Regions from separate parts of the Homo sapiens genome. Here region 2 is linked to region 1. The links come from fine-mapping of genetic effects on gene expression. A gene starts in region 1. The other region holds a variant in brackets. All regions are shown on one strand. Distances are from middle to middle.

Region 1 (4,390 bases):
TTAAGGTTAAAACACCTTCACAGAAATAGTTCTGCTATGATCTAATGTCAAATTTCAGACAGTTAAATACCCCATCCCCCAACACACAAGGGTAGGAGAAAAAACGGGAGGGAAAGATGCTTTCTTAAGTAGAAATAGCACCAGCTAACACCAACAATTCTCAAGGCTGCCACTCACAGGATAGTTTCTGAAGCTTGAAATAAAACAGATTCCTCAAAGACCCACACCTGTTACTGGGGTGAAAGCCAGGTTTGACTGATTCACCATAAACTGAAAAGTATTAAGTAAGACATGTCAAAGCAGAAAAAATTTCTGCCTCATATAAAAGGTGGATGGGGGAAGGAGCAGAAAGGTTTCTCAAAAATCAAGTGTAACAGAGCTCTTTTTGAGACATAACTGTGGCAGAAACAAAAAAAACAAAAAAGTACTAGAAAAAAGTCTAAATAAAACCAAGGAGAGTTTAAAGTGTAGCTGATATCTCAAGTATCCTTGTGGTTTGAAACGTGCTTAGATCAACAATTCATAGTATTTTCCTCTCTAATGTAAATAATGCCTAAAGAAAGTAATTTCAGGATACAGATTTATCCACCTGATTACACGTTGACACATTATTTGCTAAATTGTTTCCTTGTTTAGAGTCACACCTAAATGACTTTTTTCCTCTGGGTATCAACATTTTAATTTGCTGTTTTAGACATCTTTTTAAAGTTACAAAAAGCTATATGCATTCACATCATATGCATATCTTGTGATGGGTTTCTTGTTGCAAATATGTGTGCAAGAAATGCATAACATACCCAAATGTGAGCACAGAATTGCTTTTAAAAATAAAATAAAAAGGTCTACACTCTGGCTGCTATCACGTTTTCTTAAAGTCTCCTTATCTTTTTCAATTCCCCTTTTCTTTTACCTGCCTTTCTACCCCCAGGCCCAAAGTACAAAATAACCCCGAACTTTCTATTTCCTCCGACCAGGTAGTGAACAAGCAGCTGTGCTTTTTCTTGGCGCTCCACTGGTTCCCCTCCGTTCGCCTCCGGGTACAAGAAAGCGAATCAATTGTGGAATTGATTCGTTCCAAGATTAAAGGTAAAACAGGTGCGGCATCTTTCTTTAGGACTAGGCAGGGACCTACACGGAGGGGTGGGGGCAGAGGTCGCTGAAGGAAGGCGACCGGGCGACGGTGTGCGCCAGAGTAAAACCTCTTTTCGCAGCAGCCATCTGCACCCGGGACGAGCCTAGTCTGTAATTGCACAGAGGTGAGGGGGACCGAGCACACCCTCCCGACAGACCCAGTGTCTCTCACACACCGGAGCGGCCCCGGAGCGCGGGAGGACCGGCTGAGTGACAGCGGAGACGCGGCCCGAGGTTGTTGGAACCTGTCACAGCACGCCGCCGTCAGGCTCGCCCGAGTCTGAGGAGCGGCGCAGTGTGTGCGCTCTCACACACACATCCACACACTCATGCTCACATTCACGGAGCGCCCACCCTCCGGTCCTCATTTTGAGTCTCCTTCCCTCAAGAAAACCAAATGGAGAGGCCCACAAATCTCCCCCGTAGCCCAGTCGCTGACTCGCACCCACTCTCTGTGTGAGCGGCCCCGAGAGCCCTGAGCAGAGCCCGGGCCTCCCCCCGGGGGCCTGGAAGCTTCCCCAGTGAAGAGCCGTCTAGTTCAGGCGCGGGAGTTTCCCGGGTAAGGGATGTTTCGCGCGTCACCTCGGCGTAGGTGGCTAAACCGCGCCCTCAGAGCCGAGATCCCAGGCTCCAGCGGCTCCTCTCCCTCAGTCCTAATTCCCGAGCCGGGGCGAGTCGCCCTCGGGGGGCCGCGGATGGGGTCCCAGACTCGCAAGGGCGCGCCCTCTCCGCCTCGGGCGGGCACTCGGAGCCGCTGGACCGCTCTCCTCGCGCCACGCTGTGCGGTGGCCCAACTTCTGGATGGAGGAGACGCCTCTCTGACCACGAAACCCCGCGGGGAAAAGTGACCCAAGACAGTGAGTGTGAAATTAGCGCGGGAAGGAGGAGAGGGCGCCCCGGGGCCCAGCTCACCTCCCGTCGAACTCGGCGGCCGCCTGCAGGTAGAGCGAGGATACCAGCACCAGCGCCAGGAGAAAATCCATGTTGGGCAGCGGGTCCTGGGGCGCAGCGCAGTGGCGCGCGAGGAACAGGTTGGGGTGGTGGGCGCCGATGGGAGGCGCCCCTCTGAGAGTCTCGAGGAACCCCCAGCCCTCGCCGCCCGGGCTACTGCTGCCGCTCCCGGAGGACAGCGGCGAGGCGCGCGGCCGGAGCAGGTCTGCTGCGCGGCGCCCGGAGCCCCCTCCCGCTCCCTTCTAGCTAGGGGAGGCGCTGCAGGGGTAGCTGCACCGCCCGCGGGGAGGGGCGCCAGGGGCGGGCAGGGGGTGCGCGTGCGCCCGACTCGCCGCCCTCCCAGCCCCGGGCGAAGGGTGAGCGCGCTCCGCTCCTCCCGGGGGCCCAGCGGGGCAGGCAACTCGGGGGCAGGGGCGCTGCGGGACGGCAGTGGCTCTTGGGGGTTAGCCAAGCAGGGCGAGCCCCAGCCTGGGAGAAAAGTTGCAAACCCTCTCTGGGAGAGGGAAAGCAGGGTGCCCAGCAGGAAAGGGGAGTGGAGGAGGAAAGGAGCCCGAGGCGTAGGTGCACGCTCCGCAGGTTCCGCCCGAACAGGTGGTGACTGCAGGGGCGAGCAGTAGCTTTCACCGGAGGGCGGAGAAGCCCTAGAGCAGAGAGGTTTATGGGGCTGGAGCTGAGCAGTGTCTGCATTTACTAAAACCACAGCACGACTTGGACAAATTAGCGAAGGCAAACTCTGGGAGTTTGCTTTTCCCGCAGAGTTGGCAAAGGCATATTTTTTATTTTGTAACTAACCAAAAGAAATATTTGGCTCTCCAGTCGGGTTTTGAAGAAGAAATGAGCAGACTGTTTCTGTCTCTATCAGCTCAACTCCCGAGCACATTAGGACAGGACTGCCCCTCTAGGGATGAGTGCCTGCCAGAGAGGAAGGGCTGCTACTGCCTAGTAGTGTTGTGGTGCCTGATCTTGAGGGGATCACTTAGAAACCATTTTAAGTAATCATTGTTCAGTTGTTGCAGAGTAAAAAGTATTGTACTAAATGACTGTGTTCAAATGAAAACATGATTATCCTAAGATGTACATGAGCCCAATCAAGTCACCCCTCTTCCCAACCTTACCTCGAATGACAGCCTTGTGCAGTGATCATCTGTCATCTCCCGTACCTCTCAATGTCCTCATTTCTCTTCCTCCAGTCCATGGCCTCCTTGCCTTTCTTGCATGTTCCAGGCATGCCCCTGCCTTGGGGCCAGTAACTGGCTGTTTTCTCTATCTGGACCCAAATATCTACATGGCTCACACCCTCACTTCCTTCAGTCTTTGCTCAAATGTCACCTCTTCCAGGAGGCCAATCATGATCATCCTATTTAAAACTGCAACTTGCCCTCTGCAAATATCTACATGGCACACGCCCTCACTTCCTTCAGTCTTTGCTCAAATGTCACACCTCTTTGAAGAGGCCAGTCATGACCATCCTATTTAAACCTCTAACTTGCCCTCCTTCTGATGATCCTTGGCCTGTCCTACTTTGTCTTTTCTCCATACCACTCATCTTTTATATTACTATATAACTTGCATATTTTTTGTTTGTATGTTTTCTTTCCGCTAGAATGCAAGCTGTACAAAGGCAGGTATCTTTATCACCTAGAACACTGCCTGGCACATAGTAGGTGCTCATAAATGTTTATTCAATTCATTTGCTACATTACAAACGTTTTCCCCCCATCTTCATTTTCTTTTTGAGGTTTCTACAACTTCAAATTTTTAATGGAAAGTTCTGTGGTAGGGTGATTCACTATCCTGATCATTCAGTGTGTGTAAAAACAGGAATTTTCTTCAAGGAAAGGAAAAATAATGGTTTCAACTTAAATGGCTCTTTGATTTCTAAGTTGTTTTCAGTTAGCAAAACAAGTTTCTATTTTAATCTCAAGAAAGATCCATGCCAATTCAGGCTTGGGACATTATTTTAGGCAAACAGCTTGGTGTCATCCATTTCAGGTCCTTCTAATGAAGTCCAAAAATGTAGGAGTCAAAATATTTTTTCTGCAGAAAATCAAATTTTTGTAAGTGTAGGCATGGTTCCAGGTTCCAGTGGCTACTCCTTAGCTGTTTTTGTTTGTTGGTTGGTTAGTTGGTGCCTGGGTTAGATTTACAAATAAACCTCACTGTGTGCAATGGATGATTAGAGAGAAAGGGGGTAATATACGGCTAAAAAACTGGAGATCTAAGGAAAAGACGAAGAGTGGTGGATGAAAACAGGATAAATAACTGGAGGGAAAAGTGTAATGCCCCATCTACATGCGTCTTTCTTTTG
Region 2 (4,390 bases), 95 kb before region 1:
ATATAGGTGTGCTATGTGTCATAAGTGCTAGACATTCAAAGAGCTAGGTGTTTGGAGTCAAACTGTAGTGTATGTGTTGGAATACATACACATATGTGTGTATTACAAATATATGAACATTAGCCAACCTAAATGAGCCACAAGTAATAATAATAGTTATTACTATTATTAATGGTACATTACTATTGTTATTACAAATATAATTCCATTTATTATTAATCTTAATAATACTGCTAATAAGAAAAATGGCTTCCTATTTATTGAATGCCTCTTGTGGCTAGGTGCTATGTTAAGTGCTATACAAATGTTACACTCCTCAAATGGATCTGCACATAAACCCTGAGAGGAAGTATTGCATTTCTTATTTAGGAAAAAGAAACAGAGTCAGAGAGGCTGACTAATTTGCCCAAGGTTACAGTTGGCAATTGGCAGAGCTGACCGTTAATGGGTTGTGGGGAAAAGCCTGTGATAAAGTAGATAACGAGAGGCCTCTTGGGCCCATGAGCCAGGAGGACATGAAGAAGGATGGGGATGAGGTACCATCAGGCAGAGTCAGTGCCAGTAGGGGCAGTGTCAGCCCCTGCAGCTGCTTCTCCCTCACTCTACCCGATACACCCCGAGGCAAACACAGTTCTACAGAAGAACGGACTGGACCAGAGAGACAGAGTTCAAACTGTAGGTTCTGCAGGAGTGCGGCCGCTGCTCGAGATGACACTGTCATGGCAACAGGGCCCAGTTATTCTACTGATGCTCTGGGAGCTTATAGTGGCCTCACAGAAGTCGTGAGACACATATATCATTTCCTTTGGGTGTGGGGCATTCTGTTCAATAAGCTTGCTCCCATCACCAAAAGGAAATGTCACCAAAAGGATATAGACTCACCTTTCCTTCTCTGCTTGCACAAGAATATTACCTTTGCTGAGCTAAAACCGAGGCAAATGCTAACAGGAGGTTGGAGGGGAGTTCTTTTTGATGCGCACTTTGGGTGGAGCAGGATGTTTTAGATTCTGTGTAGATAATCAGTTCTCTACATCAGGCCACTGGACATCTAGGTTCCTTTTCCGTCTTTTTAATGGAATCTTTGAGTTCCAATATAGAAAGTGGTCACCTTACTGAAGTCTGAGTTGGTCAAAGTCATGACTCTTAATTTCGAGTATATGACAAGTTAGGGACACGGTTTTGCTCCTACCTCAAATACACTGGAGACCACAGCACTGAAGCTGAGTCAGCTCTGGCTCCCTCAGGGATCATGACCAGCTGTCCTTTTCTGTCAGCCTGACTCACTGGGGATGTCCACCTTTTGATTCTCTCATGCTGTGCCCTGGATACTCACCAGGCCTGTTTTAGCAGGTTTCACAGGCCTGGCGTCCTGCCCAGAGTCTCCACCAGAGCTTTGGCCTAGCTCCTGTGCTTGGCTGAAAGCAGGAAGAACTAAACTTGGCCTGGTGGCCCACATCCCAAGTGCCCTCATTTCACAGGACATCCGGCTCTTTGTCTGCCTTCCTGATCAGGCCCCATGAAGTTGCTCACAAGCTCTGCTGCCCACAAAACCCCCACTTGCTTCCCTCAGGTTTTCTTCCCTGTGAGGGAAAAGGGAGAGGAGAGCCAGCTCGATGCTCGTTATTAGCATTTAAGGACATTAATTCATAGCACCCATCTCTCCTCTGGATAAGGAATAAACTGAAAAAGACACAGTCAGAGACCAAAATGCCAGTTGTATCACTGCTAAAGCAAGATTGCAAAGGCCTGGACCTTTACCCAAGATGGGTAAAGGCATCATATCATTTCCTTTGGCCCTGGGGCATCCTGTTCAATAAGCTTGCTCCCAGCCCACCCTTGACCCAAGAGACGTTCTTAGCCAGAATAGCTGGATGATTACAGAACTTCACCACCCTCCCCCTTCCAGGGGCAAAGTCTTTTCTGAGGGTTTACAAGATGGAGGAAACCATGAGACTGCATAGGGCTGAGAGAGCCAGAAGGAAGGCTCAATTAGCCTCACTCAGTTGGGACTCATAGACCAAGAGTGTGACCTGATACCTGGACATCTCACCCAAGAGAGGAGAGAGAATGCAGCAACTTCCCTGATCCTTCAGGGAAGGTAGAAGTTCTGAAAATCATGAGCTGGTGGGAATCCAGGGAAAGGGGAAACAGCACTCACCACCCTTCCCCATTCTGAACTCTCATCTCTATACACATGTAAGAGTTGTAAGAACAAGCAACCAATGGGAAGACTAGGGGCAAATGAGAATGGCAAGGAAGAGAAAATAGGCAGGGAACAGGGGTGTAAGGTTAGAAGGAAACATTAGAAATAGGAAATATATTGAAAGGTAAGTTAGAGACTGAAGTATCCATTATCTTGTTGACATTTTTTTAAATGACTAAACATTATGCACTCTGACCAAAACACACTTAGGTTATAGAAGGAGTAAAAGAGGGGAATGGCTGGCATTCTTAAGTCACAACTACTCACTCAGAAATATACATTTTATGAGGTTTGTTGAGACTAGAATTTTTTTAAATGACTAATACTTGTTTATTGGAACAGTTAAGGGTTTCATTGGATATAAACTAAGATCGCATCTTCATTATTTGATTTGTTCAGGTTTTAAATTAACCAAATAACTACATTAATCCAGTTTTCAATAAGGCATTTTTCATCTCCTTTGAAAATGCTGGGAGTTTAGAGGTGGCATTGCCAG[G/A]TCAAAGGGAAATCTTACACTTGGGACAAAATAGCCAGTGACCTCATATCAGGAGTTGCCAACCACTCCCTCTAATGGGAGGATTTCCTTCATGCCCGAGGAAATCACAGGTTTTCTATAGCAGAACAGGAGGGTGGGAATCAAGCCAGTATTTAACAGTGAGTCTTAAAAGGCCTTTCCAGGGGTGTCCTAACAAGGCCACACAAACTTTGGAGCAAAAAAGAACTTGTTTAGGACAGCTGGCTAATCTTCTTGGATTAATCAAGTTGGAACCAACTTGACAAGATACAGACTTGTTAAGAATACCAGTGCACACTTGACCAAACCCCCCATTAATGCTATTTTTAAAAATACCTTGAGACTTAACATTTTAATAAAAATAACTTGGTATTCTTTGCATAGGAGTGTGACTCATTTAAGGAGAAAATTTACGGCAGCCAGTTCCTCAGTGATATCATAAAAATATGAATAGAGGGACATTTGCTTTTGGATATAGGGTAAAAGCGAGCACATCAAAGTGGAAACAGTATCTTGCAAAGTATTCCTCCCAGGATTCTCATAGCCCTGTGAAAATGCGTCATATACAGAGAAAGTTTCTCATGATTTTAGAGGAGTTAGAGGAAGGATTCTAAGTTGTTGACTCCCATTCGGATACTTCAAACACAGATCATATTTAAGAATATTTTAGGGCAGAACAGAAGATACTTTTTTATATACAAATCAGATGTATTTAAATGGACCATTGTATGACATGTACATGACTATATGCATATGCCATGTATGATTTTAGAACCCATCTTGCTGGGGTCTTTTCTTTACTGGCACTGAGGAAACAAGTGGTCCTGTTGGGGAATCCGATGTGGCAAGGAACTGTGGGAGACTTCAAGGAGTTGAGGGCAGCCTCCGGCCAGCAAGAAAATGAGTCAGATGCAAGGAATTGAATTATGCCAACAACTGCCTGAACTTGCATGTGGATCCTTCCACAGTTGAGTCTTGGATGAGGCCACAGCCCTGGCTGATACCTTGATTACAGCCTTGGAAGATGCTGAAGCAGAGAATCTACTGACACCATGCCCACCCAGACTCTTAACTCACAGAAACCATGAGATAATAAATGTGTGTTATTTTAAACTGCTGTTTGTGGAAATATTGTTAGGTAGCAATAGAAAACTAATGTAAGCAATCTCCTATAGTGGATTTCAAATATAGGGTATTCAGTCACTGGTCTCAGAGGCTATCTATAAGGAAATCCATGAAGGAATCAAATGAGTAGATGATGGTGTAAATATCTAAAATTACAGTTAGAATAATGCCCATGTCAAACTCAAACAAGTACCTATTCACCACATAGACTGTAGCAACGTTGGGCATTTAGAAGGCCTTCATGGGCTTGGAGAAAAGCATACCTTGGAGATACAGAACTCTCTATTCCTTAAAGGCCAGAACAATAGAGTCTCTACAATATGTTCTCATCAAGCTATCAAGTGATATTGGAAAAAGTCCATTTCCCACATACTTCTTATTAGACCAAAAAGATACCTTTAAAAATTAGCCATAATGCAAATGTAGAAACAGTAGTTACATCTTTCTCATTTCTTAAAATAAAGAACAGACTTCTTAAAAACTGAGGCTCAGAAATAACCCAGGGACAGAAAGATAAATATCACATGTTCTCACTCATATGTGGGAGC

Which allele goes with the higher level. Alleles are on the strand shown, and positions count from the first base shown. SD is a standard deviation of normalised expression in the study named.
For the expression in subcutaneous fat of the gene that starts at base 2,296 in region 1, allele A in region 2 goes with a lower level than allele G (moderate effect, 0.62 SD a copy in TwinsUK).

Evidence for each region. PIP is the estimated chance that this variant, and not a neighbour inherited with it, causes the effect.
Region 2: its variant is the best candidate, but not a certain one, in a credible set for the expression of NPNT in subcutaneous fat (TwinsUK, PIP 0.52).

The regions. Positions count from the first base shown.
Region 1 is chr4:105,893,377-105,897,766 of GRCh38, reverse strand. It overlaps NPNT (nephronectin), which reads right to left and starts at 2,296. Exons shown (of 12, transcript NM_001033047.3): 1 at 2,044-2,296. The coding sequence starts at 2,114. RefSeq lists silencers at 1,141-1,435, 1,674-1,883, 2,044-2,613, 3,538-3,587.
Region 2 is chr4:105,988,111-105,992,500 of GRCh38, reverse strand. No RefSeq gene overlaps it. Among named protein-coding and RNA genes, the nearest start is that of NPNT, 95 kb to the right of the region's middle. The variant G/A (reference allele first, on the strand shown) is at 2,700.